2 separate regions of the Homo sapiens genome follow, and region 2 is linked to region 1. Evidence: fine-mapped expression QTL. Tissue or cell type: whole blood. Region 1 holds a variant in brackets; the other region holds the start of a gene. All regions are shown on one strand. Distances are between the middles of the regions.

What was found. PIP is the estimated chance that this variant, and not a neighbour inherited with it, causes the effect.
Region 2: ACAA1 starts here. The variant in region 1 is fine-mapped to the expression of ACAA1 in whole blood (INTERVAL, PIP 0.98).

Annotation. Positions count from the first base shown.
Region 1 is chr3:38,086,384-38,089,065 of GRCh38, forward strand. It overlaps DLEC1 (DLEC1 cilia and flagella associated protein), which reads left to right. Exons shown (of 37, transcript NM_007335.4): 10 at 1,913-2,005. Among named protein-coding and RNA genes, the nearest start is that of DLEC1, 49 kb to the left of the region's middle. The variant C/T (reference allele first, on the strand shown) is at 1,142.
Region 2 is chr3:38,135,870-38,138,551 of GRCh38, forward strand. ACAA1 (acetyl-CoA acyltransferase 1) reads right to left here and starts at 1,258. Exons shown (of 12, transcript NM_001607.4): 1 at 996-1,258; 2 at 723-816. The coding sequence starts at 1,166. RefSeq lists enhancers at 2,373-2,682, 2,476-2,682.

The DNA.
Region 1 (2,682 bases):
GATCACAGGTTGCTAACTGGAAAAATTACAAGTCCATCAAAGGAAATAACCCCCAGAGGAACTTACTAGAGTATACCTATGATTGGAAACACACAGAACGCAGAGTGTTGTAAACTCTCTATGCAACTGCCACAACCCGAATGAGAATGGATGTATAAGGGTCCAGTGTTGTAGTTCTGGTTATGTCACTAATACCTGTACCATGCTGGGCAAGCGGTATCACCTCTCTTATCCTTCAAGCCCTGGCTCAAATGTGACTGCATTCACTCATTCAGTCCTTCTTTATTGTAGCAAATGACTGAATAGTTCAGAGGTTACAAATTGGCTGCCCTTTGGCCAAATTCTGCTGGTATTTGTTTGGCACAGCACTTAACATTTTCTGAGCCAACATTTAAAAATAAGGAGATTTGGCCAGGCGCAGTGGCTCACACATGTAATCCCAGCACTTTGGGAGGCTGAGGCAGGCAGATTACCTGAGGTCAGGGGTTTGAGACCAGCCTGGCCAATATGATGAAACACCGTCTCTACTAAAAATAAAAAATTAGCCGGGTGTGGTGGCATGTGCCTGTAGTCCCAGCTACTCAGGAGGCTGAGGAAGGAGAATCACTTGAACCCGGGAGGTGGAGGTTGCAGTGAGCCGAGATCGCACCACTACACTCCAGCCTGGGCGACAGAGTGAGACTCCATCTCAAAAAAAAAAAAAAAATGGAGATTTTATATAAAGTTCTACATTTCCAGTCCTTTGAAAAACTGGAAGATATGAAGGCCAGGGCCAGGATTCACTGTGAGCCTGTTGGCCAGGGCTGGGGGCAGGCCCTGTGTACCTTGTCCTGAGTGCCCAGCTCCACCAGTCCCAAGAGCATCCCAGCACTGACACCATCCATCAGCATGCTCACACCATCCATCAGCACTGACACCATCCATCAGCACTGACACCATCCATCAGCATGCTCACACCATCCATCAGCACTGACACCATCCATCAGCACTGACACCATCCATCAGCATGCTCACACCATCCATCAGCACTGACACCATCCATTAGCACTGACACCATCCATCAGCATGCTCACACCATCCATCAGCACTGACACCATCCATCAGCATGCTCACACCATCCATCAGCACTGACACCATCCAT[C/T]AGCACTGACACCATCCATCAGCATGCTCACACCATCCATCAGCACTGACACCATCCATCAGCATGCTCACACCATCCATCAGCACTGACACCATCCATTAGCATGCTCACACCATTATTTTTCTCATAGCAAAGATATTTATTTGTACCCAGAAAACAAGGGATACATCTAGAGGATGACATTTCAAGATGTTCCAAGAAAGACATTTCACTCATTTCTGTTACTGACCAGGGTCTTGTAGGCATGGGTTTGTGTCCCTGGCATGCTAAGTGACTTCTTGTGTAGGCACTGGGGCTGCAGCTCTCGTGCCTCAGGAGCTTGTAGCCAGGGGTGGGTCAGGGTTGGAGGCAGACACATATGCTAGCACCTGTGACACTGGGTGTTACTGTAGGAAAAGGACAATGTGCTTTGGGAGCCCAGGGGAGGGCCCACTCAGCTCACCTCCTGAGTGAGACCTTCTCACACGCTTGTCACTTTGTGTCCCAATCACTTGGTGATGGTGTTCCTTGTACCTCCTGTCAGTAGTCAGCTCTTCACAGATGTTCTAAGACTTACTCTCCTTAACCTTCAGAACCTCACCTGGTACCTGGTGATGGCTGAGTAAATGCCTGCTGAATGAATAAGCCTCAGTTTTTTCATTACCATGTGACTGGATGATCCTTAAGTTCCTTCACATTGCAAAATGGATGTTTGAAGGAGAGAAGTTTGCAATCTGAATACTGGCTTTTACAATGTCTTCCACACTGTTGGGTAATCTGCTTTTCTTTAAGGCCATTGCAACCGTCGGCTTTGTTGAACAACCTCCTTTTGGAATCCTGCCTTCGGTGTTTGAGCTGGCCCCGGGACATGCTATATTAGTGGAGGTAGGTAATCAGACATTGGCATGTATTTCCTCAACTGCTTGCATGCTTGCATTTGTCTCTGTTTTCATGACTCAAGTGTCCAGTCCCATCCCATATCACAGCCTTAGTGACTTCTGGGTAGACGCATATTCTTGCATTCTGTAGGGTGATGTCAGATGTCATTTGACTGTCTTATGAGCATTTTCACAAAGCAAATGCAGATAGCCCTAGCATCACATCACAAACCTGAGCCTTGCTAGTCCACACCTTTAGTCTGGGAGCTACCTCCACCAATGTCCAAGCTGCCTCCAAGATCTTCGCTTGGTTCTTCAGTCTCTCTTGGGTCTTCCCTCCCCCAGGCCCCTCTATCATCTGGTACCTGATTATTGCGGTTATTGTGGCTTTGTTCTCACTTTCCTGCTTCATCCTCAGTTTGTATAGTCAGCAAGGCCCAACTCCGTTACGCCTCATCCTGAACCTCTGCAGAAGCTCTCAGTGGTCTGCCCCTGGCTGTGGGCGTCTCCTTTCCTAACTGGCCCCTTTTGCTGCCCCCTTCAGCTGATCACACCTGCTTGCTGGTCCCCAGAGGTGCCCATGAGAAATGGTGATACTTCCTGTCCCTGTTGCAGCACACTGCCACTCTCCCCGACTCCTGGTCTAGGAGTCTGACTCCACTTCATGTGACTGGGTGTGGGCTG
Region 2 (2,682 bases), 49 kb after region 1:
TTTACGGGTGTCGGGCTGGGGGACTGTAAGGTCTTTCCCTTCCCACTAGGCCATATCTCAGACAATCTCAGTGGGGGGAAACCTGGACAATACCCAGGCTTTCTTGGGCAGAGGTCCCTGCGGCCTTTCGCAGTGCACTGTGTACCTGGTTAATCGAGAATGGAGAATGGCGATGACTTTTACCAAGCATACTGCCTGCAAACAAATGGTTAACAAGCCACATCCTGCACAGCCCTAAATCCCTCAAACCTTGATTCAATACAGCACATGTTTCTGTGAGCACAGGGTTGGGGCTAAGGCTACAGATTAACAGCATCTCAAGGCAGAAAAATTTTTCTTAGTACAGATCAAAATGGAGTTTCTTCTGTCTTCCTTTTCTACACAGACACAGTAACAGTCTGATCTCTCTTCCTTTCCCCCACACTGCCGCACTCCCCTTGCCGAGATAGTGAAAATAGTAATCAATAAATACTGAGGGAACTCGGAGACCGATGCCGGTCACCTGGGCCCACTCTACACTTTGTCTCTGCGTCTTATTTCTTTTCTCAGTCTCTCCTCCCATCTGACGAGAAATACCCACAGGTGTGAAGGGGCAGGACCCCTTCAAAGGTCAAGGCCATGGAGGTTCCCCCAGTGAAAATTCGGGGCGGGGAGGTGAGGAGAGCTCTGGACGAACGGAAGAACGGGGAAGGCCCAGCGCAGGGCCTGAGTGGTTCGCTCACCGACACAGATGTCCCCCAGCTGTTCCGGCCTCAGATTCACGTCCTTGAGAACCGCGGTCATGACTGCCGAGAGAAGCTCGTCGGGGGTGGTGTCCTGCAGCAGAAAGAGCAGCCGCAGTGACCCCCACTCCCCCATGCCCACCCCAGGGAGACAAAGCGACCACAGCTGGGTGCGGAGCTGCCTCCGGCGTCCAGGATAACCAAACATACGAACCGGACCCCAGCCCGCGCCGGCGTCTTCCCACACTCGGCGCCCAGACCCTCGGGCCTCACCTTGAAGCCGCCGCGGCCCGCCCGGCAGATGGCCGTGCGCCGCCCGTGCACCACCACCACGTCCGCGGCCGAGGCCTGCGGGGCACCGCTCAGGCAAGGCGCGGCCTGCGGCATCCAGCCGGAATCGGCCGGACCCCTCAGGTGGCCCAGCACTACCTGCAGCCTCTGCATTGCGCAGGTCAACCCTGCAGACCAGCCACCAGTCCGGGAACTGACCGCGGAGTTAACAGACAGCCGTCCGCACACGCGCAGAACCACATCTCAGCCTCCAAGGCCTCAACTCCGCCCACAGCTCTGCGAACAGACGCGAGCGACCCTCCAAAAGTCCCGTCCACCTCCAGCCTCAGCCAACCACAAGGAGAGTCGGCCTGGGAACCCGCCCCTCCCCGCCACCGCCTACCAAGCCCTCTATAGGAGGGCCCACAGGCACCGCCCAGCCGAGCTTTCCACTCAATGCCCCGCCTACCTTGGCCTACCGCAGCCAACCAGAAGGTGTATCTTTACGAATCCCCGCCCAGAAATGCAGACCGGAAGTCTTTCCACCTTTTGTAGCCAAACCCGAGACCTGACCCCCAAATCCCTGTCTCCTGCCCGCAGCCAAACGGAAGGCTGGGCAGCCAGGACCGCTTACTGCTTGGGGGCTGGAGATGGAAGCCGAGGCTCTAATTCCTCTACCCACTTCCTAGGAGGCTCTGCTATCCCTCCGGTCCCAGTACCCGAGCTGGGGGACCTAAATACTTCCGAGACGCCCGAGTCCTGCTCCGACGTGGTTGGGCTTTCCCATTCTTTCGAGAAGACAGGGAATTTGGGCTTCCGGGCTGGCCGGGAGAACAGATTTTACAGACATGCGGGGTGTGACAAGCTCTCTAACTGGAGAATGAACATTTCACACTTTTACCAGTTTTACACCCAATTGGAATGATTTTATTAGTGCCCATTTCCCGTGCTAGGCTGGGGTCTCCACCAAGGCAGAGAGGTACCATGTATCCGGGGAGCCTGCGACACCCTTGACACTTAGTAGATGATCAATAAGTACTTGTCGAATGAGTAAATGAATGAACCAGGGCTCCCCAGGTCAGGACTGTGTCCCTAAACCTAAAGGGCAAGGCCACGTGCCCCCTTGACTCCCAATAGCAGGGCCATGTCTTCACCTGAGACCCTGGAGAGTAGTGCTGGGCTTTCCACAGACACCAAAGGACAGGGTGCCTTGTGCTCCCCAACCTAGTGTCATGACGTCCCCAACCATTTCGAGGGCAGGGCCACGGCATGCCTCAGGCTCCAGAAGGCAGCTGTCCGTTTCCCACTCCCACCTCGGGGAGCACAGCAGGGGTCTTCCCATACCCCTACTGGCAGGATTGCGTGTTCCCCAGAGACAGTGGAGGGCAGAGCTGGTGCCTTCCCACTTGTCCCCTCCTCGCCATCCTCGAGGGCAGGACCGTATGAACCCCTCAGATTCCTCCGTGGAAGAACTGTGGCTCCACCAGATCCCAAAAAGCAAGGCCCGTTTCCTACAACCCCCGAAGGAGGGTCGTCCTCACTCCGCCGCCAACCTACTAGCACCATCACCAGACCCTCGAGGGCGGTGCCGTGGACCTCTCCAGATCTCAAAAGGCAGATTCCTACTTCTTACGCCCCCCACATCACCCGCCTCGAGACCTCAAGGGTAGAGGTGGGCACCCCCGCCTCC